Regions from separate parts of the Homo sapiens genome. Here regions 1, 2, 3, 5, 6 and 7 are each linked to region 4. Evidence: fine-mapped expression QTL. A gene starts in region 4. Each other region holds a variant in brackets. All regions are shown on one strand. Distances are between the middles of the regions.

Evidence for each region. PIP is the estimated chance that this variant, and not a neighbour inherited with it, causes the effect.
Region 1: its variant is fine-mapped to the expression of CSGALNACT1 in whole blood (INTERVAL, PIP 0.98).
Region 2: its variant is fine-mapped to the expression of CSGALNACT1 in thyroid (GTEx, PIP above 0.99).
Region 3: its variant is fine-mapped to the expression of CSGALNACT1 in esophagus muscle (GTEx, PIP 0.94).
Region 5: its variant is fine-mapped to the expression of CSGALNACT1 in whole blood (TOPMed, PIP above 0.99). The same link has a PIP of 0.9 or more in amygdala, anterior cingulate cortex, atrial appendage, breast, caudate and cerebral cortex.
Region 6: its variant is fine-mapped to the expression of CSGALNACT1 in monocytes after LPS (Quach 2016, PIP 0.95).
Region 7: its variant is fine-mapped to the expression of CSGALNACT1 in whole blood (TOPMed, PIP above 0.99).

Annotation. Positions count from the first base shown.
Region 1 is chr8:19,401,465-19,405,530 of GRCh38, reverse strand. CSGALNACT1 (chondroitin sulfate N-acetylgalactosaminyltransferase 1) reads left to right here. Exons shown (of 9, transcript NM_001354483.2): 9 at 1-1,370. Among named protein-coding and RNA genes, the nearest start is that of SH2D4A, 90 kb to the right of the region's middle. RefSeq lists an enhancer at 1-70. The variant T/C (reference allele first, on the strand shown) is at 2,443.
Region 2 is chr8:19,677,945-19,682,010 of GRCh38, reverse strand. All of the region lies in intron 1 of CSGALNACT1 (chondroitin sulfate N-acetylgalactosaminyltransferase 1), which reads left to right. It overlaps CSGALNACT1-AS1 (CSGALNACT1 antisense RNA 1), which reads right to left and starts at 3,466. Exons shown (of 2, transcript XR_007060841.1): 1 at 3,184-3,466. RefSeq lists an enhancer at 2,116-2,716. The variant C/G (reference allele first, on the strand shown) is at 1,639.
Region 3 is chr8:19,718,061-19,722,126 of GRCh38, reverse strand. The region is part of intron 1 of CSGALNACT1 (chondroitin sulfate N-acetylgalactosaminyltransferase 1); the gene reads left to right. Among named protein-coding and RNA genes, the nearest start is that of CSGALNACT1, 37 kb to the left of the region's middle. The variant A/T (reference allele first, on the strand shown) is at 1,670.
Region 4 is chr8:19,755,062-19,759,127 of GRCh38, reverse strand. It overlaps CSGALNACT1 (chondroitin sulfate N-acetylgalactosaminyltransferase 1), which reads left to right and starts at 1,851. Exons shown (of 9, transcript NM_001354483.2): 1 at 1,851-1,942.
Region 5 is chr8:19,455,337-19,459,402 of GRCh38, reverse strand. CSGALNACT1 (chondroitin sulfate N-acetylgalactosaminyltransferase 1) reads left to right here. Exons shown (of 9, transcript NM_001354483.2): 4 at 761-977. Among named protein-coding and RNA genes, the nearest start is that of SH2D4A, 140 kb to the right of the region's middle. The variant C/A (reference allele first, on the strand shown) is at 1,880.
Region 6 is chr8:19,702,070-19,706,135 of GRCh38, reverse strand. The region is part of intron 1 of CSGALNACT1 (chondroitin sulfate N-acetylgalactosaminyltransferase 1); the gene reads left to right. Among named protein-coding and RNA genes, the nearest start is that of CSGALNACT1-AS1, 26 kb to the right of the region's middle. The variant A/T (reference allele first, on the strand shown) is at 2,334.
Region 7 is chr8:19,665,730-19,669,795 of GRCh38, reverse strand. The region is part of intron 1 of CSGALNACT1 (chondroitin sulfate N-acetylgalactosaminyltransferase 1); the gene reads left to right. Among named protein-coding and RNA genes, the nearest start is that of CSGALNACT1-AS1, 11 kb to the left of the region's middle. RefSeq lists an enhancer at 4,040-4,066. The variant C/G (reference allele first, on the strand shown) is at 2,245.

The DNA of each region.
Region 1 (4,066 bases), 350 kb after region 4:
TAAGCCTAATGGTGTGGAGGTTTTGATGGTGTTTACAACACACTGAGACCTGTTGTTTTGTGTGCTCATTGAAATATTCATGATTTAAGAGCAGTTTTGTAAAAAATTCATTAGCATGAAAGGCAAGCATATTTCTCCTCATATGAATGAGCCTATCAGCAGGGCTCTAGTTTCTAGGAATGCTAAAATATCAGAAGGCAGGAGAGGAGATAGGCTTATTATGATACTAGTGAGTACATTAAGTAAAATAAAATGGACCAGAAAAGAAAAGAAACCATAAATATCGTGTCATATTTTCCCCAAGATTAACCAAAAATAATCTGCTTATCTTTTTGGTTGTCCTTTTAACTGTCTCCGTTTTTTTCTTTTATTTAAAAATGCACTTTTTTTCCCTTGTGAGTTATAGTCTGCTTATTTAATTACCACTTTGCAAGCCTTACAAGAGAGCACAAGTTGGCCTACATTTTTATATTTTTTAAGAAGATACTTTGAGATGCATTATGAGAACTTTCAGTTCAAAGCATCAAATTGATGCCATATCCAAGGACATGCCAAATGCTGATTCTGTCAGGCACTGAATGTCAGGCATTGAGACATAGGGAAGGAATGGTTTGTACTAATACAGACGTACAGATACTTTCTCTGAAGAGTATTTTCGAAGAGGAGCAACTGAACACTGGAGGAAAAGAAAATGACACTTTCTGCTTTACAGAAAAGGAAACTCATTCAGACTGGTGATATCGTGATGTACCTAAAAGTCAGAAACCACATTTTCTCCTCAGAAGTAGGGACCGCTTTCTTACCTGTTTAAATAAACCAAAGTATACCGTGTGAACCAAACAATCTCTTTTCAAAACAGGGTGCTCCTCCTGGCTTCTGGCTTCCATAAGAAGAAATGGAGAAAAAAATATATATATATATATTGTGAAAGATCAATCCATCTGCCAGAATCTAGTGGGATGGAAGTTTTTGCTACATGTTATCCACCCCAGGCCAGGTGGAAGTAACTGAATTATTTTTTAAATTAAGCAGTTCTACTCGATCACCAAGATGCTTCTGAAAATTGCATTTTATTACCATTTCAAACTATTTTTTAAAAATAAATACAGTTAACATAGAGTGGTTTCTTCATTCATGTGAAAATTATTAGCCAGCACCAGATGCATGAGCTAATTATCTCTTTGAGTCCTTGCTTCTGTTTGCTCACAGTAAACTCATTGTTTAAAAGCTTCAAGAACATTCAAGCTGTTGGTGTGTTAAAAAATGCATTGTATTGATTTGTACTGGTAGTTTATGAAATTTAATTAAAACACAGGCCATGAATGGAAGGTGGTATTGCACAGCTAATAAAATATGATTTGTGGATATGACTGCTTTGTGGAGTAAGAATGTCATTTTGTTTAGTTTTTGGAAATAGTATATTGTGCATGGACCATGGTTTCTCAGCCTTGGCACTACTGACACGTTAGACTAGATAACTCTTTGCTGTGGAGGGCTGTCTTCTATACTGTGGGATGTTTAACCACATCCCGAGCCTATACCCACTAGAGGCCAGGAGCATCTCCCACCCAGTTTTGACAATCAGATTGTCTCCAGTCATGCTCAAATGTCCTCTGAGGGGAAATCACCCCTGGTTAAGAACCACGGGGCTAGAGGGAGAAGAGAACCATAATGAAAAACCTGAATTATTAATACATTAACTTGTCTGTTTTCATTAGAGGAAATTGAGAAATGATTTCCAAGGCCCCTTTCAACTCTGTGCTTAATATTGTCACGTGTGGCTGGGCACTGTGGTTAATGCCTGTAATCCCAGCACCTTGGGAGGTCAAAGTGGGAGGATCGCTTGAGCCTGGGAGTTTGAGACCAGCCTGGGCAACATAGTGAGACCCTGTCTCTACAAAAAAATACATAATTAGGTGTGGTGGTACACACCTGTAGTCCCATATACTCAGGAGGCTGAGGTGGGAGGATCACTTGAGTCCAGGAGGTCAAGGCTGCAGTGGTGAGCCCTGATTGCACCACTGCACTCCAGCCTGGGTAACAGAGTGAGACCTGGTCTCAAATATATATACTTTTTTCTGTGCTCTGATGATACTAGTAACTTCAGGGCATGTGTTTGGCCTGTCTCTGGCATGGTTCTGATGGATTTGTGGTGAGTGCCCTGCATGCTCTTGTCCATATCCTCCCAGCGTAAGAAGGATGGGTGTCTAATGAGGCTGGCAGTGGCAATCCAATATTCTGACTGTGGAACTGGACAGGTCTGAGAGTCTCACAGGTGGTCCCATCCGGGCTGCACTCTGTGGGCTCATCAGCCATTTTTGTGCTTGTTTACATTTCATATCACAGATGCCCAAGACAGTGGTGAAGAATTTTTTTCCTTTCCAACTTTTTAGGAGGTTCCTGTGCTGATTTGTCACATGGGTAAAATGCGTGTTGCGGGGG[T/C]CTGGTGTGCAGATTCTTCGGTCACCCAGGTAATAACTGCAGCACGTATTTTTCAGTCCTCACCCTCCTCCCACAGTCCACCCTCAAGTAGGCCCCGGTGTCTTTTGTTCCCTTCTTTGTGTTCATGGGTTCTTAGCATTTAGCTCCCACTTGTAAGTAAGAACATGCAGTGTTTGGTTTTCTGTTCTTGTGTTGATTCGTTTAGGAGAATAGTCTCCTGTTCCATCCATGTTGCTGCAAAAGACATTATTTTTTTCTTTTTTATGGCTGTGTAGTTAAGAATTAAGAATTGGGTTTTTTAAAGTTGTGGAGAGTAGCTGATGAGGAGATGGGACAGCATAATATTCAACTACGGTATTTCTTTTTCAAAGCTTATTCAGGTAAAACAGTTTCATTAAAGGGTAGAGGCCCTCTTTAGCAACATGCTAGTGGAGAATACCCCCCTTTGCCTGCCCAAGACATACAGAAAAGAAGGATTGTAGAAGGTCCCACGAAAACATTAGAATTAGGAGGCTGGAATTTAAACTTAGCAAAGGAAAGCAGTATCGGAACAGTGGTTTCAAGAACCCAGTCACGTCGCACATTCTCAAGGATGCTGCTGAGAAAACAGTGAGTCTTGGGCTTGCCTAAGGCCCCTTCCAACTCTGCATGCTCTCTCTGTTCCTATCCCTAAATTGTCCAGTGACCAGCACAGGTTATCTTACTGAGCTGGGCTTTCTAATACAGTGGAGGTCTCCTCCAGGCGGTGGTGTACTGGTACAGCCTCGTGGGAGCCAGTTTTCAGCACTTCTTTCCAGTCCTCACTCCGTGTTGACAGGGTGGTAGCTTGAAATCCATCACGGTGGAAGTATTTACACCATGGAAACTGGCAATTGGCAAATGCTGCCAATCAGCCATCCTTACCACCTCTGGGCCCCTAGGCCTGGCCCATTGTTAAATTATATCCACATATCATTGCCTCTAAGTGACATACCTGGGCTACCTGGGCTGTTTTCTCTGCAGTGATCTACTTCCTAGCCCCTCTTTGTATTTATAAATGTGGTTGACTGCCCCTTTCCACATCACTGATGAAGATCAGGCCTAGGAAAATAGCTACCCGGAATCTAATTTTAGTAATGTTTTTGTTTCAGGAAAAATCGTCTTATCTAATTTTACGTAATAGGGGTTCAGCGCAGTAGAGTAGTTGATATCATGGTTTTTCCAGCCAGACAACCTGGGTTCAGATTCCAGTTATTTTATTTGCAATTTACAGGATCTTAAAGGAGTTGCTAGATGTCTTCATACCTTGATGTCCTCATTCAGGGTGATGGATTCAATCCTTGTATATCATGCAGTTGTTTTAAAGATTAAATGGGTTCATATGTATGAAGCACTTAGGAAACATCAGGCACACGGTAGGTGTTGTTAGTATTCAGCACACAATTCCACATGTACAAATGTGTATCTGGCAGTGTCTGTTAAGCTTCTCGGTATGCCCAGTGCTGCTTGGATATAATCAGATGGCTATTATAGGCAATACAGTAAAGATGATGAAGCCGTCATGTACACTGTTGTTCTTTTTGTCATTCTCAAAACTTAATCTATCTGAAGGAGAAGGGTTACTAGGAGTGTGAAATTTAATGGG
Region 2 (4,066 bases), 77 kb after region 4:
TGTCTACACCTCTGCAGACAACCTCTCTTATGCAAACTGGTGAAGTGCTTCACCCTTGAGAAAATGGACACTGGCAGGTAAAGCAGCAGGCCCAGGGAGACCTGGAGTGTGACCCAGAAGGTGGGGTGGTGTCCAGGTGAACATGTCTTGGGGGCCCTGTGAACTCTGCCCTATGACATGGTGTGGCTAGAGAAGGTGTGAGCAGTGCCTTCTGAGCATGGTGCTCAGGGCACGGGCCCAGACTCTGGCCCAGCCTGGCATTCCCAGGGCAGGGGACAGAGATGGGAGGAGTTGAGGGAGCAAGTGGGAACTTGGAAGCACATCCAGGCCAGATGAGGTGCTGCAAGTGCCGAGGTCAGGCACTTCAAGCGTAGGAACCCTTGGACGTACCAAATTATGGTTTTAGAAATGTCTGTTTGTTATTTTTAGATTTGGGCAGTATGTCGCCTGCAGATTTACCACTTACCTGATGCAGACCCAGGAGACTTGTCTTGTATCTGCTCTGACCTCTCTCCTCCCAGGTCCCTAGGTCCCCAGTTCTTCCTTTTAATGTTGTGCTGGTGGCGACAGAAGTCTGCTGTGATGGAGGAGCCAGCGATGGGGATGGGGGCGCGAAGGACAGATGCACCATTTCCCCCTTTGCCTCTCTCTCCCGCTGCATTTATGGATCTGCTGGTCTAGTTCTCATTCTTTGCCTCAACCTCTTACACATATCCAATTCCTGCCTTTCTACTGTTTCCATTCTTACTCTGTTCCTTTCCTTGCTGTGAATTTCTTCCTATTGCTTGGTGTTGGTGGCTTGGCAGGGGCAGTGGGGGCTCTGCAGGGAGGTGGGAGATGCTTTCCTAGTATCCCAATGAGCTTCTATGACCTTGTGATAGTAGTAAGGTCGTCCCTTCATATCTTCAGGGGATTGGTTCCAGGAGTTTTGGGGATACTGAAATCTGGATGCCCAAGTCCCTTGTATAACATGGAGTAGTATTGGTGTGTAACCTACACACATCGTCTTGTATACAGTCTGTACAGTCACACGCAGTTTTCATCAACAAGGGACCACATATACAACTGTGGTCCCATAAGATAATGGGGCATATGTAGAAACCTGACATATGGCACTAAATAGTGGCATTGCAGATCAAGTAGGAAAAATGGTTGATATTCAGTAATGGTTCTGGGATATTTGTTTTTCCATGTGAAAACATATACATAAATAAAAACCTAATACCGTGTAGGTTTGTGTGAGTACATTTTGATGTTCACGTGCTGATGAAATTGCCTAATGATAGATCTCTCAGACCTATCACAGTCATTCGGTGACACATGACTACTTTAAATCACCTCTTAGATTACTTGTAATACCTAACACAGTGTAAGAGCTATGTAAATAGTTGTTATACTGTATTTAAAATTTGCACTATTCTCTTTTTTTGTGGGGGGGGGGGGGGGTGGGGCGAGGGTGCAGATTCTTCCTTTGTTGCCCAGGCTGGAGTGCAGTGGTGTGATCTCTGCTGACTGCAACCTCCACCTCCTGGGTTCAAGTGATTGTCCTGCCTCAGCCTCCCAGGTAGCTGGGATTACAGGCACCCGCCACCACACCCGGCTGATTTTTATATTTTTAGTACAGGCAGGGTTTTGCCA[C/G]GTTGGCCAGGCTGGTCTTGAACTTCTGACCTCAGGTGATCCACCTGCCTTGGCCTCCCAAAGCGCTGGGATTACAGACATGAGCCACCATTCCAGGCCTATATTTGCACTATTTTTAATTTTTGTCTTTTTAATTTTTATTTTTCCAAATATTTTTTATCTGTGGTTGGTTGAGTCCATGGATGCAGAGGAGCCCATGGATGCAGGGGGCCAACTATACTATTTCAGGTAGTTTACAAGTGAAATAGGCTTTTGGAGGTTGACATAGAAATCTATAACATTATTCCTGTGGGGAAGTATATTTCCAATTTCAAACAAGTAATTTGTTAAGTAAACTTTCAGAACTAAAGTTTGTCGTGGCTATTTTTAGAATTTTGCTACTGGAAGGGTGCTTTGTCCATTATAACCTGTAAATGAATTGAATCTACTCTAAGCCGGTATGTAGGCCCCCTTCCAGCTCAGAAGGTCTATGAATTCAGTGCACATTCCTCACTTTTATAGGGTAGGAAATTGAGATGAGAGTGTGTGAAGTTATTTCTATAAAGCCGCAGGTAAAGTGTTGCCGGGACTCTGGCTTCCTCTTCCACCCTCTTGTATGTCAGAACCTAAGAGTGGCGTTTTCATAACCCAAGGAATTTGGGCACCAGCACCTGTTTGTGGGTAGCTGGTGAATATTGATGGCACATGACTGTCTTGAGTCACAGCAGGTGGTGCCGGACCTTCCTTTGTGCACAGGTTGAAAGGCGATTTGAAGAAGAATAGCGAGTATCCTAGCTTTTTAAAGGTGGCTACAGGGGTATTTGATCAGCATTGTCAGCATCCTGCGTCAGTACCTTAAAATGAGATTGATCTGTATATGGGTTAAGTTGTTGGAATTTTCCCTTTGTGTTTTATTTTATTTTATTTTTTATTTTTTGAGGCAGGATCTCCCTCTGTTGCCCAGGCTGGAGTACAGTGGCATGATCATGGCTCATTGCAGCCTCGACCTCCCTGAGCTCAAGCCAGTTCTCTCACCTCAGCCTCCCAAGTAGCTGGGACTAGAGATGCACATCACCAAACCCCACTAATTTTTGTATTTTGTTTGTAGAAACGGGGGTTTATCATGTTGCCCAGGCTGGCCTCGAACTCCTGAGCTCAAGCGATCCACGTTACTCGGCCTCCCAAAGTGCTGGGATAAGAGGTGTGAGCCACTGCACCCAAGAGGAAGTTTCTTATGGCTTTGCTGCTGTCTTGAATTTCCTTACCTTTAAGAAGAGTTCCTGTACATAGAATAATTATGAAAGTTTTTCAAGTCTTTATGAAATTTTTCTACACTATTGATTGCATAACGTTTGTAAGACTGTTTCCTTATTCATAGAATAGGGATAATGATATCTCCTACTTAATCTTTATGTCAGGATTAAGTGATACCAGAGGAGACAGTCAAGCTCCCAGCATGGGATGGCCGTTAGTGAGTAACCACTAATTGCATTGGTTTCTATTATTGTTGTAGTTACTGTCATTATAATGAGGGCTTCCTGGTCTTACCTGCTTGGTGTCACTTACCAGGTCTTGTCCTTTTGGATGCCTCCTCCCTCATTTGGACATACTTCCTATTACTCCAGACGAATCTGTTTCATGTGCTGAAGCTCTCCCCTTCGTGGGTCAAAACGTATGGAATTTCTGCTTTGTAAAAAAAAATTCATAAGATTTTGATTAGTTACATTGCAGGATCTAGTTGTGATTCCACTCTGCTGCCTTGAGGTCCCACCAGTGATGACTTTATTGTTGACATTTTCCTTTACACTGTTTGTCTTGGACTTTCTTCTCTGCTTAATGAGCTGGGGACACAGGGACATTCCTGGAGCCTATTTACATTTTCTATTACGTGCCTGACTTGCATTTACGTCAGACATAATCAGTAACTGCTTAGCTATGAGGACAAAATGAGTTCTACCTTTCTGTAATAGTTACCCTTCCTGGTGACTTATCCTGGAATCATTTTTGTACTCTGTCGTTGGTTATTTGAAGAATTCTCAGTCTGGAGTCCCAATCCGAAAACTTTGCCTGTTTGTTAGGTTTCAGTATTACATGCTAATTCTAAAGAGCCCTCTATGCAGAGATGTCTGGATACTTCTTGTTAGGCCTTTTTGCCCCGGTATGCTGAGTGTTAAGGTTAATAGTGATTCCCTAAAACTTGGGATTAGTCCCTGAGAAAACAATTTAGGAAACATATTTGCAGTATGACTAAGTAGCATTTAGTGGGGTAATTTTTTTTTTTGTTTGTTTGAGATAAGAGTCTCAGGGTGGCCAAGGCTAGAATGCAGTGGCACGATTCTGCTCACTGCAGCTTCCACCTCCTGGGCTCAAGCATGTCAGCCTCCCAAGTAGCTGGGATTATAGGTGCCCACCACCACATCCAGCTAATTTTTTGTTTTTCAGTAGAGTT
Region 3 (4,066 bases), 37 kb after region 4:
ATGCTTATTTTAAACAAATTTGAAATGTAAGCAAAAGGTTTCTATTGAATTTAAACCAACATGAATTAATCAGTTTTAAATCACAGAAAAAAAAATTCAATATGAAATTTCTTTTTTTTGCTTGAGTCGAAGACTTACTAGGTATTGGGAGCTGACACAGTAAATGTTTTACTGTAGCAACATTTTAGATTTGAATCTTTACATTGGCTACACCTGGGAATTTGTTTTTTTAGCAATTAATTTTTCTTTTGAAATTAATATGAAAGGAATACATTTAATGATCCATAGAAGTATTGACTTTATGTAAAGGAACAGCTAAAGCCAATTAGCATGTTTTAATTTGCATATATCGTGCAGTTCATTAGGCATAAATGTGTTCTCAGCATAATGCGTGATATTTCTCAAGTATGTGATATGATGAGAAGACTTTGGCGGTCTTTTCAAATTTAACATTTTCCATGACAGACAGAATTCTGTGTTTGTCATGGAATGTGGTATTTTAGTGTGAAGTGGCCCAATTTAAATGCTTTTAGCTAGAAGCCATTTCTCCCTCCTCTGAACTCTCTTGAGCACCCCAGCTATGGCTCATGTGCTTGTCATGGTCCATCAGGCTTTATGATTATTCCTCCGAGTTTCTTATCTCCCCCTGATACATGAGAACCATGTGCGGACTAGGATCGTGTCTCATGTGTTGTTGTCTGTGCCTATGTGTTTTGGGTAAAATATTTTTGAAGTTGCAGATTTCAGAGTGCAAACAGTGATTTCTGTACTTTGTTGATTAGAATCCTTCTATACATGGTGGGTGGAGTAGGCAGAGGGCTTGAGGTCTTGGCTGGGGACTTGGGCTTGTTGCATGGGCCTGGAGATCAGTTTCACAGTCTCCGGGATGTTGTTCACAGCAGGTTTTGGAAATGGTGGTGACAGGACTAGGACTCAAGAGAAAAATCTGGCAGATATCTCCAATGTGGTTCTGGGGTATGAGCCTTGAACTGAGAACCCAATGGGGAACATTTCAAGGTGACTGAATTCCAGCAGAAAAGGAGAGGGCTGGCTATACTGTTTGGTCACTGATTCTTGGATCTCATGTTTATTGTCACCTAGTGTGGTCCGGGAAACAGTGCTTTAAAACCCAGTGTGTGTTTTCTTCTCTGTCCTGGCTGTGCAGCTCCTATAGGAGATGAGATCTGAGGTCTCAGGGCCTCTGCACAGGGCCGTCCTTACCACTTCAGCAGGCCCCCTTGGGGACAGGTATCTGGCTCAGATTCTTCATCAGGGGCTTCGTTGTGATGTTTTAAAACATGCAACCAAAACCCTCCTCTGGGATGCTGCTTGGCCAGGACATTCTTGGGCATGAGCCAGCAGCACCAGAGTCATCCAGAGAGCGATGGAGGAAAGCTTTTTCCCTTTTGGGCTCTGAGAACAAGCAAGTGGATGGGAGGTAGAGGGGAGGGAGGGTGGAGAGAGAGAATCAGCATGATGTCTTCCCATGCCACGCCTGGCACAGCCACACTCCTTAGCCCTGTCCGGGGAAGGGAGCCACTCCTCGAAACTACCTCCCAAGACATGTAATGCATACAGTTCTACCAGGAGAGGTTGATTCTCTTGGATTGAACAGTGTCTCTCCAGGTAGGATAAATGTGATATTTTAGTGTGAAGTGGCCCAATTTAA[A/T]TGCTTTTAGCTAGAAGCCATTTCTCCCTCCTCTGAACTCTTTTGAGCACCCCAGCTATGGCTTATGTGCTTGTCATGGTCCATCAGGCTTTATGATTATTCCTCCGAGTTTCTTATCTCTCCCTGATACATGAGAACCATGTGTGGACTGGGATCGCGTCTTATTTATCTCTCTTATTATTAAGCACGCTGCCTCCCTACATCACTAGGGATTGACTTTGGCTGCCTGTAATGGAAAACCTAAAATGCTGGCATGAATTGCGGGGTTTCACTTCTCTTGTGCTAGGAGAAGGACAGGGGTAGTGGCTCCAGACTGGCACAGTGGCTCTTCCATGTCACCAGTGCCCTTTAGCTTTCTCCTCTGCCTTTCTCATCATTCTCAGGTTTGCAAAATGGCTCTTGTACCTCTGTGATTACATCCACCTTCCAGGAAGTCTAAAGGGCAAAAAGTGAGGTCAAAAGGGATGAGCCAGCCTAGTGTGCTCCTTCTATTATTAGAAAAATGATAGCTTTCTTGGAAGACCCTAACTAGTGAGCTTCAGCTTATGTCTCACTGGCCAGAAGTATGCCATGTGGCAATACTTAGCTGCAGGGGATCTAGGCGAGGGAGGTGTTTTTTCATTGTTGTTTTCTCATGAGGAAGAATGTATGGCTGCCTGGAGCAAAATTGGGGTGCTACTCATAAAGAAGAGAGGTGAATGTAGGCAGCTGGCATTGTCTGGCATCCTCCCACGTAGAAATGACTCAGACAGACACTTGCAGAATGAGTGGCTTTAACTGTGGACGTGAAGCTTTATACCAAGAGGGGAAGATCAAGGTCTAGAATCCCAGTAAGAAACAACACAGGGATTTTTTGCTGATTTGCTCCTACCATCATCACACAACTATTTTGGACATTTAGCTCCTGGCATCCATTGTCTTGTTGTTTTTTTCTGAAAACGATGGGAGATTCCTACATCAAGACCTTTGTGATGTTTAATGTACCCAGGTTCTGAGGCCTCCTGAGTTTTGGTTGGTCATAACAGAGACAGATTGAAGAATGTGTGCCTATTTCCAGACATACCCCTTAGATAATGACAAATATCGGCATAAGAAGATCCACTTGTCAACCTCGCATCACAGGGAGTACAGGGAGTCTGTGCCAGGCATGGGAAAGAATTCTAGCTTTTTCTCACTCACTTTCATCCTACCTTCCAAAAAAATGCATGCAATGTGGCAAGATAAAATATAAATCAGAAAGACAAATGAGTCCAAGAGAAAACAAGGATGGGAAGTGATAATTTGAGCCAGGGTTGAAGTATAAGTTACTGTTTTGTATAGTGTATGTGTATATTGTATATGTGTGGTATCAGGTCCTGTGTACTTCGTAGAAATAGGGTACAAATTTAGCTCTCAGGTTTTAGCAGTCAGCAGGTGGAGGGAAAGACTCTGTTACACAGTTCGCAGTGTCTACAAGACAGAGATAGATGGTTACTTAAGGGAAGCTTAACTCTTTACAACGGTGAGAGATCTTGCAGGGCGTATGTTAATAGCCATAATACGTCAGGACATCTTAGCATGATGGGGAATTTGGGTTACAGGAATCCAGATGAGAGAGGAAGTTCATTCCTGTGGTCTGAGAGGGCTTCACGGTCGTGGTGATCCTTGCAGAAGAGGCAAGGGTAGAGTGGATGCAAATAAGTCCTGTTTGGCCAGAGCAGAGCTTTGTGTGTGGGAGGCATGGGAGGCAATTTGGGTGGATTTAGAGATGGCTAAATGGCAAACAACTGCAAACTGGGTAATGTTTTGGGCCGGGGAAGTGACATGATCAAAGCAATGTTTTTAAAAAATGACTAAGTGTTCATGATGGGAAAGCATTGCATATAATAATTATCAGTTCATATGAAATAGAAACAGTACATTGATGGCAAGAAAAAAGAAAAGAGAATGTGTTTTAAAAACACAGATTCACTTGCTGCAACTGTGCGTTTTGTTGCTATAGCATAAGAACTGTGCAAATTCAATCTTTGGCTTCTAGTTTTTAAATAGGAAAATGGAGGAGAAATAGAAAGCCTGTGGCCAGGCTCGGTGGCTCACGCCTGTAAACTCAGCACTTTGGGAGGCTGAGGTGGGTGGATCACTTGAGTTCAGGAGTTCAAGACTAGCCTGGCCAACATGGTACAACCCCATCTCTACTAAAAATACAAAAATACAAAAATTAGAGGGGTGTGGCAGCAGGCACCTGTAATCCCAGCTACTTGGGAGGCTGAGGCAAGGAGAATCACTTGAACCTGGGAGGTAGAGGTTGCAGTGAGCTGAGATTGTGCCACTGCCTTCCAGCCTGGGTGACAGCATGAGACTCTGTCTCAAAAAGAAGGCCTGTTATGCTTTGGACCTTTTAGGTATCATAAAAAGGGA
Region 4 (4,066 bases):
CCCTCCCCAAGCCTGTCCACATAGTCTAGAACCTGAGTCCAACCGTGTGTGTCTGTGGTGGGCCCTGGCAGTTACTGCTCAAGTCCTCTGGGCTGTCTTCCAGACCAGATTCCATGCTGAAACTGTATTTTCTAATTCTGCAGATATCACTGAGCAGAAGGACGGGAGATGCTTCAGGAGAGGAAAGAAAATCAATGCTTTGACAACACACCTGCCAATATAGGGAGGTGTAGGAATGCTTCGGTGGCAGTGGGAAGGCTCTGAAGAGGTTACTTGGTTACCCAAAGAGTGCTTGACTGTGAAGGTTCTAACCTTTACACAACTCATAACCAACGCCAGCCTCCATGTCCTGCCCTCCGTCTGCAAAATGGGGAGTATCATGATTTGCCTTAAGAGGGTGCTGTGTGATAATGTGGGAAGGAGCCTTGGCCAATGGCTTGTACCTATGTATGTGTGTACGTATGCTGTGTTAACTATTTATTACCTCCATTATGCAGCATTTTGGGGCAGTAGCAGAATAGACATATTTTTCATTCATTTGGAAAACACCCACTTCCCTGTTTCCCAAGTCTCAATTGAATTGCAGTGGGTATATTAGGTCACGAGGGTGAAGAGTTCACTCAGGGTGTGGGGTGGGGATAGGTCCACCTGGGGAGTCCAGGTGGGAAGCAAAACTTGCTTCAGGGATGCTTCCTGCAGGTAAGCAGGAGCTTAATGGAAACCGAGCTGCTTCAAGACTGTGCCTATAGCCTCAGGACTGCCTACCCTGTGCCCACAATAAAGTCTGGTGCGCCGGAATCTCCCAGATGGAGACTCTGAGCCAGGCAGTAGAAGGAGCCATGGCCAGGTAGTAGAAAGAGCACTGCCTCAGGAGTCATAGGACTGGTTTCCAGCTCCGGTTCTGCGGTGGCTCAGCCCTGGGGCCTCTGCAAGTTGCTTAACCGCATCTGCAGGTGATGACCTCTTCCAGTCTAACTGACTCCTCCTGAGTCCCCCTCAATTACACTGAAAATTGGCGATCCTATTTCCCAACTCCCTCTCCCACAGAGATGCGCTGGAGCACTTACAGATAAAAGGCGACCTGTGGCCCTGGAGGGTGCCTGCCTGTGTGTGCTGGAGGTGGCGGTGGATCTTTTATTACCCAACACTCCACTTGCCTTTTTAGCCTTTCCTCTCCCTCTTCTCTCCTGGCCTCCCAGTGGCCGTCAGGGGTCCCTGCAGACATCGCTTACCCACAGTGGTGCGGTGTGAGAGTTACAGGGGTTCCTGACCTTCGCTGTAAGTAAAAGCTCTCTAGGGGAGGCGTTATAGCTGACCAGGGCAGCAGAGACCGCGACTAAAGCGTGAATTCCCCGAAGTGCGATTTACAAAGTTTTTGCATGGAAGTCGGCGCTCGGCGGGGAGGGCAGCCAAGGGAACAGAGCGGGTGGAGCAGGGGGATGGGGAACTCTGTCCTGCAAGAGTAAGGACCCCATGGAGATTGGACACCTCTCTCCTGCAACTCGGGCCACGCCACAGTGTCCTAGTCTCTAAACTTCTCCGGCTCTTGGTGTCCAGTCACGCGTAAACCGCCCCTGGTGTCCGAGCGCGGCCCCTTCCGAGAGTGACAGGCTTCGGCCAGGGCGCCGCTCCGACGGGCGCAGGGACGCACTGCAGAGAGGCCGTGGGTGACGCGGAGGTACGCGGCCAACCGCGACCCCAGCCCGGCCTTGGCCGCCCCCGCCGGACCTACCCTGCGGCGGGGCGCCAGGCTTGGCCGCTGTTGCGCCCGCCCGCCCGAGCCGCCGCCGCCGCCGCTGCTCCCCGCCCCCGGGGTCCCTGGAGGCTCCGCGGCTGCCGGAGCGGGAGGTGGAGCCGAGTCCGCGGCGGCCGCGCAGGAGGGAAAGTTCAGCGACGGCGGCAGCGGCCGGAGCCGGGCCGGGCAGCTAGCAGGGCGCTTCGGGTGAGTCGGGTCCCCTCCCGGGCCAGCCGGGCGCGGTGTGCCGCGCGGGGGCGTCAGTGGCGCCGGCAGATCCCCACAGCCCCGCGCGCCTAGCTCGCGCCCGCCCACCCCGCGACCTCGGGGTGGCTCGTGCAGCTGCGGAGGACGGTGCCGCGCCTGGCCTCCCTCCGCCGCTGCCCGCCGGGGGCCCAGGGCACGGGCAGGGGCCGGGGACCGGCTTGGCAGGCGGAGGGCGCGGCGCCTCCAGGTGGGCGCGCGGGGACGCGGAGGGAGCTTCCAGGGAGGGTCCGGGGCCGCTGCGCTCCCGGGGTCGGTTTGGCTTCACCAGCGTTTCTCGTGGCCTTCCGCTGTCTGATTGCTTTCTGCAAAACCCACTGAAAAGTAGCCTTTCCACGTGCCGCGCGATGACTGCGGTTATTGTATTATTGTGGCTGGGATGGAGAGGGTGGAGGGGGCGTGACGAGGGTGGCCGGTGGGCAGCGCGCTCGCCTGCCCGGGACCGGGCTAGTGGGGGATGTGGCTGAGGGTCACCGCTGCCCGAACATGCCCAGGGGACGTGCGATCGGTGGGCAGAAGCTGTTCGAGGGCATGATCTTGGGGTGGGATGGGGGCTAGAAGGGCGGGGAGGAGAGGAAAGCTGTAGGAAGCGGAGGCAAAGTTGTTTGTTTCCGTCGCACTTCCTGCACCTGCATTCCTGTCAGAGATTTTGAAGTTATCTTTTCATCGATGAGCAAAGAATGGTGAGAAAGGAAGAGATGTTAACAGCACTGTGCCTGCCAAAACAGTGAGCCTCGGGAAATACTCATAAGTGAAATACTAATAAAAAGCATGGAGTGGTTAAATTTCACAAACTCCACTTTTCTTCTGGTTTCAAAGCCTTGGTGCAGTTTTTACTTAACGTCATTAGATACGTCTAGATAATAAAGGTAATGAAGTGTTCTTTCACGGTTTTTTTTTTTAAACTGGAAATTTAAATTTAATTCTGTAGGATTTCGTCGACATTGTTCCTACAAGAAAGTCAAATTACCTTGGTGTTACTTGCAACAGTGAGCATTAATAAGCCCTGTGCAGTGCTGAAATGTTGCTAATTGGAGGGAGAAAGGTCCTTCAAACTTGGAAATAGACGCAGAAAGGCAAGATGAATTTTTATGTAAGCCTTAGGCATAAAAGGCGACTTGAACACGTTTTGTAATAGTGCATAATACACAGGGGACTAGGTGTTGGGCTGCCGGAAGATGGTCAATTCCTAGAAAGCAAGAGACGGGCCATACCCATTGTAAGATCACCGTACATATTTAATAATTCGTCTGCCTTGAGCTGCCACACCATATGTACTCCACATAATACAATATCAAAATACTTTAATCCTGTTCATCTTTGTGTGCTAAATCTTATATGTCTATTTGTAAAATGTATTAGTGGGTTTTAAAGCAGAATCTCCGACATTTGGATTCATCCGTTTACATTACAGTGCAGTGAGCTTGTGTCTTTGCTGTTCCAGAGACCTGAGCTCCAGGCGGCTTCTTCCACTTATTAATTGCATGACCTTGGGCAAGTTACTTCCCCTTTCCTAGCCTTGGTGTCCTAATTTGTAAAATGCCAATAGTATTCCTCACCTTATAGAGATGTTTAGCAGGAGGAAATTACATTTGGGAACTTATCCTAGTGCCCCGAGCACACAGTATGCACTTCATAAATGTTGTCTTTTTTTTTTTTTTTTTTTTTTTTTGTCTTTCTTTACATTTAGGGATCCCCAACTCCAGCATGTTTCAACATTTAAAAAAAATTGTAAAAATTCCTTCTTCTTTGTAACCCTACTTTCTATTCATTTATCTATTGATTATTTATTGGAGAATCTCAGATACTGCCCAGTATAGGTGTTGAAAATAAGGAGTTGAAACTTTGGGGCAATACTTCAGCTTTTTCTTGTATCTTCCTAAGAATCCATCCTAAGTTCATATGATGATGAATGATACTTACCAATCTTCATGTTGCTCTAGCTCTGTTCTTAATGCCATGTTATTACATTAAAAAGAAATATCAGTAAGGTCTGCAAGGGTCCTCATCTTTCCTCTTTCCTCCATGTCTAACACAGTGCCTGGCAGGGCATAAGGACTAAATAAA
Region 5 (4,066 bases), 300 kb after region 4:
TTTTTTTTTTTTTTTTTTTTGAGATAAAGTTTCGCTCTGTTGCCCATACTGGAGTGAAGTGGTACAAACTTGGCTCACTCCAACCTCTGCCTCCCGAGTTCAAGCGATTCTCCTGCCTCAGCCTCCCAAGTAGCCAGGGTTACAGGCGCACAACATGACGCTCTACTAACTTTTGTATTAGTAGAGATGGGGTTTCACCATAGTGACCAGGCTGTTCTCAGACTCTTAACCTCAGGTGATATGCCCACCTCAGTCTCTCAAAGTACTGGGTTTATAGGCATGAGCCACTGCGCCCAGGCTGAAGTGGTTTAATTTCTAAGACATAATTTTATTGCTGATTTTTAAAATTAAGTATAATTATTTTAATATTCTTCAAATCATATTGCAGGAAATTTGGATACTAGAAGAAAAGAAAAAAACACATAATCCCACTCTATATCATAGTCAGTCTTATTTTGGCCTGTTTCCTAAAAATCCTTTTGCAAATGCCTCTGTATCCTATGAATACAGTTTGTATCCAGCATTTCAAGCTTTTTCCCATGTTTTTATGCAGTCTTCATAACTGTGATTTTAAAATTCATGCTATTTTGACTTCTTTTGGAATTTTTTAATTGGGAGCATTTTGAATTTTCGAATAATTGTTGGAGAGATTTCATCTTAAACACTTTTTAAAGGCATTCTGTGCTAGATCTCGGTTGAAAAACACTCAGCAGCCAAGGTTAATTTTTAGAACTATCTTTCCTTGTTTTTCTCTTAACAGGGATCTACCGAACAGAAAGGGACAAAGGGACATTGTATGAGCTCACCTTCAAAGGGGACCACAAACACGAATTCAAACGGCTCATCTTATTTCGACCATTCGGCCCCATCATGAAAGTGAAAAATGAAAAGCTCAACATGGCCAACACGCTTATCAATGTTATCGTGCCTCTAGCAAAAAGGGTGGACAAGTTCCGGCAGTTCATGCAGAATTTCAGGTTGGTTTGTTCGCACGTGTTTATCTTCCTCCGCATGATGTGTGTTAGAACACTGATATCATTTCCCGTCATCTCCTTCATTTCCCCTGCCGAGTACAAAGCCTCCTTTCTCTTATTCAGCTCTGTTTTCTCCACGTAAAGTTTATCATTTGTATTTGCCTTTCCCTAGAGCAATTAGAAAACTGCCTTACAAGCATATTGACCTTCAGAAGTGAAAAGCAGGAAGGACTGGGTTTTCACCAGGATCTACAAAGATGACTGAATGCCTGTTATGTTCATTCTGACTTGCGGAGGGGCTCAGGTTTGGGGATAGCAGGAACCAAGACTCCCAGGCAAGTGAGCAGCCTTGAGTCTTGAGGAGGAGAGAGGAGCTGGTGGTGGCAGAGCCCACGTTGACAGTTGGCGAGCTATGCAAGGTGTTCTTGATTGGCTCTAGGCTGCCTTCACCTGCTGTCCTGTTCTAGTGGTGGCTGCAATGCATTGAATCCAAATCTATCTTTTATTGTAACCTGCATCATCTTAGACTTAAGTGTAGAATTATACCAAGAAGGTTTCAAGCCCACATTTTTGTAGCTACTCAATGAGACTAAGCTGGGTTTCATTTTTCAGGCCTGCTGATGAAGTTTTTAGATGTGTGCCTTTAAGCCCTTGATTGTGCGGTGTTGGATCTTAGAAGCTGTGATGGCTCAGATGCACATATTGGCTGAGGATAACCAGCTAAGTGATTTCACCAGCTTGTTTTAAACATAGAAAATCCTACTGTCTAATTATAAATCTTGAAAGATCAAGCTGATTTTTTATTTCTTTTTTTTTGAGATGGAGTCTTACTCTGTCACCCAGGCTGGAGTGCAGTGGCACGAACTCTGCTCACTGCAACCTTCACCTCCCAGGTTCAGGTAATT[C/A]TCCTGCCTCAGCTTCCCAAGTAGCTGGGATTACAGATGCCCATTACCATGCCCGGCTAATTTTTGCATTTTTAGTAGAGACCGGGTTTCGCCATTTTGGCCGGGCTAGTCTTGAACTCCTGATCTCAGGTGATCTGCTCACCTCGGCCTCTCAAAATGCTGGGATTACAGGCGTGAGCCACCGTGCCCAGCCTTGATTTTTAATCTTAGTAAATTTACATTATTGAAAGGCATAATGTTCAGTATAAGGGTGTGGTTGATACCTTTCAAAATTCTGGTTCATGAGCGTACTCTGTTTGAATTTAAAGGATAACCCACTTATAACTAAGTTTTTTGAAGATTAGAATCAAATAGTCTTAGACCTTTGAGGTCATCTGGTCTAATCTTCCCTTAATTGAGACTGTCTTTCTGACGTAGGGTTCTCTAGGCAATGTGTGTGTGCACCAGGAAGCTGCCTACATTACTAGTCAAGCTGCTGCTTTGTTGATCATCTCTGGATAGGAAGTTCTTTATTGTTTATGCCTGAAGTCGGCTTCCATGTCTTTTCTGCCTGGTGGGTCTAATTCTAGCCTCTGGAGGACTGAACAAGTCTATTTCTTCTTAAACATCATAAGTTTTCAAATATTTGAAGGTGGTCATCACAACTCCCCTAGTCTTTTCTTTCCAAGGTATAGCAGTTCTCAATTCCCTTAGCTTTTTCATATTCCCTAGTTCGTAAATTTCTTTTAATTAGCTGGAGCTTGCCTTTAGCCATGATGTAATCCAAAGTAGAGTGGGCTAATAGATTGATCTTTTCCCAGTTTGTAGAATACTCCTTTGTGCATGATCGCATAATTGTTTGCAGTGTTCCTCTGGCTCCAGTCCTGAAGTGAGTGTTTTTATAGTTTTGGCTTCTTTCAACCTTCTTTTAGTGTTTTTGCTCTCTTTCTCTGTAGGTTTTCCCTTTGGAATGGCACAGTGCCGCTGGTTGATTAAACATTACATCTCCAGAATGACTGAACCTGCGGCGTTCTGAATGCAGTTGTTGAACCTGAATGTGGTTTGCATTAGGCATTAAGTGAAATCATTACTCTCAGCAGCTAGAATGCCCATTTCTAGGACGAGGTTATCGCAAGTTCATTTGGCAAAGAAGCTGCCTATGTCTTACTGGGTTCAGGGTCCTGAGCTTTGATTCTCTGAGTCCTTGGACATGTTAGGCTTGCTGAGGTGGTGCTTACACTAAAGAAGTATCTGCTCGGTGAAAGGACAAGTCCTCACTGTAGGACTCCTGGGCCTGAAATAGCAGGATTCTCTTGGGTATATATGAACAGCTATTTCCTTAGTGTCAGCAGAATTTTAAGCAATTAACAATAGCAATAAAACAGGAAAACAGGAAGGGAAGTTTCATTGAGAATAGTCAAATGAGTAGCTTACAAGCCTCAAAACGGGTGAAATGAAACGTGATTCCAGTTAATGTTTTAAAAGAACACAAAAATCCCAGGGCAGTTTGCCTTGAGCTGATTCATCTCAGCCCACCATATGGACTTTTACTATTTGGATGTCCCTTGCTCGTGGAGGTAGGAAGGGATGGGTGGCGGAAGACTTGTGACCTGGAGAGGATGTTTTGAGAGCCTTTTGCATGTGCTAGACATGCTACCAAGGTGCAGGGGATCAGAAGATGAATTGAAGATGCGGTGCCTACTTTCACTAATAGCAGAAGCTGCAAATGCAGAGCCAGGCGCTGTGGCAGAGATACAGACAGGGGACAATGGGACACAAAGAGAATCTGGCCAGGACAGCTGACACTGGAGCAGGAGGCTGAGTAGGGAGTTTATGTCACAGTCAAGGCATTTCTGAGACTGTTGATGTCTCTGAAAAACTGGGATGCGAGAGGGTAAATACCTGTGGGTATTTAATGCTTCATAAAACCTTATTAAAGATGGCATTTCAAACCCAAAGAAGGGGTTATTCAGGGCATGGTGTCAGGACAACTAGCCAAACATAGCAGAAAAAAATGTGATTCTTATTTCACACCAAAAAAGCAAAGTAAACTCCAATTAAATAATTAAATGCAATTAACATGACCATAAAGTTACTGGGAGAAAATATAAAGGGCTGCTTAATAAATATTTGATGTTGTCTTTATAAATTCCTTTCCATCCCCAGACTGGAGACTGTGAACTGTGGTTGACACTGAGGATGACACTG
Region 6 (4,066 bases), 53 kb after region 4:
GCATGCTATTTGCTTTGTAAGGGCCCTGTATGATTGGGAGGTGGAGAAATCTATTTTAGTTTTTATTTGATCTGATTAGTATTTTTCCATGTCTGGGTTTATTTGTAGCTACTGCACCTCCAGATTTTTTTGCCTTTGTCTTCATGTTGGAGGGGAGGTTCGGGGATTCAGATAATCAAGTAATACAAGGTAATTGAAGATAATCGAGGAAATGAAAGAAAATGAAAATTAGTCGTGCCCTGTCATTCGATTATTCAGCTTTAACTAGCATCAACATTCTGGAATGTTGCTTTACTTTTATGTTTATGGTTGTATTTATATATTAAACATCTATTCATAATATGTCATGTACAATTTTTGAAACTCTAGCCTTACATTTTTTTCTCTGGATTTTTTTTTGAGACTGGGTCTCGCTCTGTTGCCTAGGCTGGAGTGAAGTAGTGCGATCTCAGCTCACTGCAGCCTCCCCCTCCCCGGCTCAGGCAATCCTCCCACCTCAGGCTTCCGAGTAGTTGGGACTATGGGCATGCACCACCATGCCCGGCTAATTTTTTGTATTTTTTGTAGAGATGGTGTTTCATCATATTGCCTAAGCTGGTCTTGAGCTCCTGGGCTTAAGCCTCCTGCCTCCTGCCTCAGCCTCCCAAAGTGTTAGGATTACAAGTATGAGCCACTGTGCCCAGCCTTCCCTGGATTTTAAAATTCAAATGATGAGCTTTTTCCTTCTAAATATTATTCAAAAACATGTCATTGAATGGATGCATAAAAATGCATTAGAAAATAATTATTGAACATTTAAATTGTTTCCAGTTTTTCCCTGAGTTAATGGAATTCTTGATGTAAGTCTTTGCATAAATAGCTACCCTTGAGTTACTATCCTTAAGGTAGAATTACTGATTTACTTTCTATTTGTTTTTCCCCCAAGTTTATTGAAGTATAATTGGCAAAAATTACATACAGTTAAGGTGTACAATGTGATGCTTTGGTATATGTTGTGAAATGATTACCATAATCAAGCTAATTATCACCTCACATAGTACCTTTTTGTGGTGCAAATACTTAAGATCTACCCTCTTAGCACATTTTAAGTGGGCAATACGTGTATTAACTACAGTCACTATGATGTAGGTTACCAGAACTTATTCATCTTGTAATGGAAAGTTTGCATCATTTAAGCAAAATCTCCCCATTTCCCAACTCTGTTTTCACACAGTAACTACCCTTTTAGTCTGTTTGAGTTCAACTTTTAAAACTTCCATATTGAAATGAGATTGAGCAATGTTTTTCTTTCCATGTCTAGGTTGTTTCACTTAGCATAATGTCCTCCAGGTTCATCCTTGTTATCACAAATGGCAGGATTTTCTACTTTTTTAAGGTAAATAATATTCTGTTTTATGTATATATCACATTTTCTCCATCCATCCATCCATTTATCCACCCATCCATCCATCCATCCGTCTATGGGTACTTAAATTGTTTCCATATCTTATTGTGAATAATGCTGCAGTGAAAATAGTGCAGGTATCTCTTTGAAAAAGTGATTTTATTTCCTTGTGTATATACCCAGAAGTGAGAGTGCTGGATCATAGAGTAGTTCCATTTTTAATTTTTGAAGAACCTCAATACTGTTTTCCATAATGGCTATACCAATTTACACTCCTATCAACAATGTATATGGATTCCCTTTTCTCCAAGTCCTCGACAACACTTGATATTTTTGACTTTTTCATCACAGCCATCTTAAGGTGTGAAGTGATAGATGACTGTGGTTTTGATATGCAAGAAATTTATTTTTAAAAAGTATTAATGGTACTTTGGAAAAATTCAAAATTTCTTCTCCATCTAACAATATAATATCGGCCTGGAAGGGTCTGTGATTCAAATGCCCTGTTACCTTTCTTCTTTCTCCTTTGGCAGCACATTCGTTTAGTGCCTTGTTTTTCCAGGGACTGGGGGAAATGGAAGAGAGGAAAGGAGGGAGAGAAGAGAATAAGAATGATCCATGTAATTATGTAATTAACCATCAAGCTTGGTTAATTCAGAGCATTCTCATTCTTTCATTCATTCAAAACTTTAAAAAGTAAGATCTCCCATGTGCAGTGTAGTGTGTTAGGCTTACTGAGTGGGGCTGGAAGAGCAAATCAGACATAGATGATACCCTCAAGGGTCTGACAGCTCTCAGGAAAGATGTCACTGCCAGATATGCACCCGTACTATGTAAGAGGCTCCTGAGAGCTGCGTGTAGGATAAGGGAGGAAAGCCAGTGCATGGGCAGTTTCCTAAAAAACACTGTTAATTGTAACGTACTTTGTAGAGAACTAAACTTAATCACA[A/T]AAATTACTTGGTGTAGAATATGTTGTTCTGAGTGAATGAATCTGATAACTTTGTATCAATCAGGGAGACATGCAGACCATGAGAGGATTTCTTGTATTGATTAAACTTTGTTTTACTGTGGAAGGTGCTGTGCAGTCAGTAGTAACCAACTCTCCAGTTACCTGAAGGTCTGAGGAGCACTAAAAACAAAGAGAGGGCTGGGCATGGTGGCTCACACCCACCGGTAATCCCAGCACTTTGGGAGGCCCAGGCGGGTGGATCATGAGGTCAGGAGATCAAGACCATCCTGGCTAACATGGTGAAAACCTGTCTGTACTAAAAATACAGAAAATTAGCCGGGCTTGGTGGCAGGTGCCTGTAGTCCCAGCTACTCAGGAGGCTGAGGCAGGAGAATGGCATGAACCTGGAAGGCAGAGCTTGCAGTGAGCTGAGATCCCGCCGCTGCACTCTAGCCTGGGTGACAGAGTGAGATGGCGTCTCAAAACCAACCAACCAACAAACCAAGAGAGGTCAGCCTGTTCTTATTATGTAACAACTTCGAGTGGCTCAAATCCCAAGTCACATGCCACGTCAATGGCTCCTTCTGAACAAGGGCTGAGCTGCCATGGGTCTAGTTGAGAAGGAAAAGCTCTCGATTTCAGGGTCTTGGGTTATTTTGGTAATAGATCAGAAGACAGTAGCATCCTATTGGAGGGACACTAGTGAGCACTTCCCAATGACCTCCCTTCTTCCCCTGCCTCAGACATCCATAGGGTTACAGGTTTCCCTTTTGAGCTTGAATTCTGTCCACGGTGATCATGTTGATCAGATGAGATATAAAGGGAAGTGAACCCACACCAGGAAGGGGGCTAAGAGGGGTGTAGGGGAAGAAGTGGATCTAGTCATTGGCCCTGGTCTAAGTGGGGGCTACTGGGTGGGGGGCTGGGCTACACTGATTCCCTTTAGGGGAGACCCTGAAACCCAGAGCTTTTCCTTCTGCACTAGATCCATGGCAGCTCAGCCCTTGTCCAGAAGGAGTCATTGACATGGTATGTGACTTGAGTCTTGAGGACGAGGTCTGGTATAGACACATGGAACTGGGTGATGGATGGGAGAAGATGGGTGTCTGGCCAACAGAGCAGTCTGTGACAAGGACTGAGATGGAGCATTCCAGGTGCATGCAGGGGACAACCAGTGCTTAGTTTGGCTGGAGGGTTTTGCTTGGGAAGGGGAGTGCTGGAAAGGTGGGAAAGGGCTGGGAGCAGATGCAGGTTGAAGAATTTGAATTTTAAAAAATTAATTAAGTTTTTTTTTAGAGACATAGACCCTGACACCTAAACTGGAGTGCAGTGGTGTGATTATAGCTCACTGCAGCCTTCAACTCCTGGGCTGAATTGATCCTCCAGCCTCAGCCTCCCAAGTAGCTGGGACTACAGGTGTATCCTCAACTAATATTTAAATTTTAATTTTATTGTAGAGATGAGGTCTCACTATGTTGCCCAGGCTGGTCTCAGAAGGAATCCTTCTGCCTCAGCCTCCCAAAGCATTGGGATTACAGGTGTGAGCCATTGCACCTGGCCCAGAGTTTGGCTCTAGGGATCCACTGAATACCTTTGGGAAGGGCTGTGAGGGGCTCAGAGCTCCACTGTAGAGAGATTCATCTTGCAATGGTGGTGTGATGGATGGTGAAGAGGAGGGATCAGAAACAAGGGCATCTGTTAGGAGGCTATAATGATGGTTCAAGCAGTATTTA
Region 7 (4,066 bases), 89 kb after region 4:
CTTCTGAAAGACATGGTTTACAGCTGGGCACAGTGGCCCATGCCTGTAATCCCAGCACTTTGGCAGGCCAAGGCCAGTGAATTATTGGAGGTCAGGAGTTTGAGACCAGCCTGGCCAATGTGGTGAAACCCCCATCTCTACTAAAAAAAACAAAACAAAAACAAACAAACAAAAAACTGGCCAGGCATGGTGGCAGGCACCTATTAATCCCAGCTACTCAGGAGGCTGAAGGAGGAGAATCGCTTGAACCTGGGAGGGAGAAGTTGCAGTGAAGGAAGGTCGTGCCACTGCACTCCAGCCTGGGTGACAGAGGGAGACTCCATCTCCAAAATAAAAACCAAACAAACAACAACAAAAAAATTAGAAACGGTTTACAGTTTTTATTTGGTTTGGTAGAGTAACCATGTGCTTTGAATGTTTGTAGTTTTTATGATAGTGTCCTCCATCTCGGGATGAAATTTATTAAGCAAGGGTACATATTAATAAAATTGAAGAGAAAGTTGTTTGCTTCCAGAAACATAGATGGTAGTCATTTTCCTCTTCTGTGGTTGCATGTCTGCTGGGTTAGACTAGTGCTTGCATTTGCAAATCTACTCAAATTCCTATTGGGGAAATGGAGGTAAATTTTCAATGATTAAATTATTTTCTCAAAGCCAAATAGCAAATGATCAACATACTTTTGAATGAAATCCACATGTCTAGACTCCAAGAAGCCTGCTGTATCTGAGACCTTTTGTTTTACACAGAATTTGTTTGAGAGCCTGTAAATATTCATCTGTAATAAGTTGTTTTTCTGCAGAAGCATTTTGGTGAGAAATGAATACTTTGATCACTGGAAATTCATAGATTATTACAGTATTTCAAAAGGTTTCCTAGTATTTCAAGAAGGGTGTTCCTTATCCAACGTGATTGATCCCATTTTCCCATTTTAAATAAATTGGCAGGCCGGGCACAGTGGCTCACTCCTGTAATCCCAGCACTTTGTGAGGCCTAGTCTGGTGGATCACCTGAGGTCAGGAGTTCAAGACCAGCCTGGGCAACATGGTGAGACCCCATCTCCTAATAATCCAAAAATCAGCCAGGCATGGTGGCGCTCGCCTTTAATGCCAGCTACTTGGGAGGCTGAGGCAGGAGAATTGCTTGAACTGAGGAGGTGGAGGTTGTAGTGAGCCAAGATCATGCCACTACATTCCAACCTGTGTGACAGAGCAAGACTTGGTCTCAAAAATGAAAATAAAATAGATTGGCATTTTAGATGTATACAGCTAGGAATCTTTGGGTTTGAGTTTACTCATGAAGTAATTGATCAGTTATTTAAGAATACTTTTTTCTTATGTTACTTAAGGATTCAACTTCTTAATAATTTTTTAGTTTTTAAATTCTAAAATTACAAAAACAAAGGCTCATGTGGAATGATTGCCTTTTTTGATAAAGTTGTGTGTGTGTGTGTGTGTAACCGTGCATGTATGTGCAAGACAGAGATTGAGCTATGAGTGGCTAAGGAAGCTGAGGGGTGTCTGTCCCCAAACTTTGTCCCTGAGGTGACTGCAGAGATGAGGGTGCAATTAAAGGAACAGAGGAAAGCAGTGATGAGATGCTGTGTGATTTTACCATTCCTTTTTTGCATTTTTGAACAAAATATAGGAAAAATCTATGAAAACTATTTTTCATTGTGTAGATGACCATGTTTCATATTTGGGAGCCAGTTGTATTTCTCTCTCTGGAAAAGTTAAAGGATGTAATATATGCTGGTCAAGTTTTTATATTCTTACTTTCTAGCTTCTTCTAATATTTGAATGGTTAGGTTTCCTTCAGTTCAACTTCACTATGCTCATTTTCACAGTTGTGATCTGCGCTTTAATTCTATTTCTTCTTAAAATATTTAGTTGGAGGAAATTCCATGATCGTTCATTGAGTTTAATACTTTTTTATATGCTTTATCAGATTTTTGAATTCTTACCAGTATGTAATACCCTTATAATGAAAATATGTGGATGGTATAATCTTACATTACATTTTCTGTGGCTTAAGTTAGTGATTTATGGCCTATGATTTTTACATTTTTGATCACGAAGCAGCAAATGACCTTTGCAGCTCTTTGAAAGCTCTCCTGATCTGAGGAAGAGACGTTAGTCTTAGGGTTTCAAGTACCTTCTCCTTACTGCCGTTTTGTGGTCATGTTGCATTAAGGGCCTTGACTTGTTCATAATTCATCAGCCTTGGTTCAAAGGGGGTGGAACACGA[C/G]TGACTCTCTCATTGCAGTTCATTGTTCTCTTACCGTTGTGAGAAGTCATAATTAAATCACTTCACTCTTTAAGCACTAAGGTAGAATAGAAATAATGTCTTGATTTTTGTTTTTTGAGACAGGGTCTTGCTCTATTGCTCAGGCTGGAGTGCAGTGGTGTGATCTCAGCTCACTTCAGCCTCAACCTCCTGGGCTCAAGCAGTCCCCCTAACCTCAGCCTCCTGAGTAGCTGGAATGAGGGGCATGTGCCACAACACCCAGCTAATTTTTGTATTTTTTTTTTTTTTTTTTTGGTAGAGATGGGGTTTCGCCATGTTTGGCAGGCTGGTCTCAAACTCCAGAGCTCAAGCGATCCACCCACTTCTGCCTCACAACTTGCTGGGATTACAGGCATGAGCCTGTGCACCTGGCTGAAATTATGTCTTTTGATATTGTGATGAGATTTCTTTCCCTTTCTTTCTTTCTTTCTTTCTTTCTTTCTTTCTTTCTTTCTTTCTTTCTTTCTTTCTTCCTTCCTTCCTTCCTTCCTTCCTTTCTTTCTTTCTTTCTTTCTTTCTTTCTTTCTTTCTTTCTTTCTTTCTTTCTTTCTTTCTTTCTTTCTTTCTTTTTCTCTCTCTCTCTGTCTCTCCCTTCCTCCCTTCCTCCCTTCCTCACTTCCTCTCTCTCTTTCTTTCTTTCTTTCTTTCTTTCTTTCTTTCTTTCTTTCTTTCTTTCTTTCTCTCTCTCTCTCTCTCTCTCTCTTTCTTTCTTTCTTTCTTTCTTTCTTTCTTTCTTTCTTTCTTTCTTTCTTCTTTCTTTCTTGTTTCTTGTGTTTCTTTCTTGTCTTTCTTTGTGTCTTTTCTCTCTTTCTCTCCCGGGACAGTCTTGGTTTGTCAATTAGGCTGGAGTGCAGTAGCACAATATCGGCTCACTGTAACCTCTGCCTCCTGGGTTGAAGCTATCCGCCCACCTCCTCTCCCTCCTGAGTAGCTGGGATTACAGGCACTCACCACCACACCTGGCTAATCTTTATATTTTTTAGTAGAGACAGGGTTTCATCATGATGGCCAGGCTGGTCTGAACTCCTGACCTGAAGTGATTCACCCGCCTCAGCCTCCAAAAGTGCTGGGATTACAGGTGTGAGCAACCACACCTGGCTGAGAAAATGTTAATAGATGAATTGGGTGAAGTAGCTAAATAGAATAGGAAGAAGTAGAAGAGACAGGGTTTTCTTCATGGGAGCTGGAGCAAGTTGTTTGATTTTGTCTGGGCTTCTATTCCTCTAGTTATAATATGAGGACAATAGATGGTTTTAATTTCCCTACAGCACTCAGATTTTAAGGTCTGACGGTGAAAGTTGTGGCAAGAACACTGTTAGAATACCTTGTTCCTTTTCTAGCATTCAAATCCAGCTTCCGTGGAGCACCCTCCTTTCACCAGTGTTGTACAGGAACAAAGGGAAAAATCTTGAAGTCTGCCTGGATTTAAACTAGACAAACAACTTGAAATAACTCCAAAAAGATTAAAAATAACCCAAATCTGGACTGCCATGTGAGAGCTGTGATGAAGAAAGTCTAAAACAATGAGGAATCTTCAACTAGAAAAAAGATGGAGAAAATAAGAAGCCTGGAAAATCGACAATGTGGTTAGATGAATGTAGGTCCATTGATCTTGTCCTGGGAGGTGAGACTAAGAGGAAGTTGAAATGTTAACTGTAAATGAATAGAGAATGTGTTCTGTTTACGTAGCGAAGAACACATTTTTAGTTATTCATTATCCCAGGTGTAATTAACCAAACCCTTCTATTATGAATTAAGAGAGAGGAATGGGGAAAATTGACGT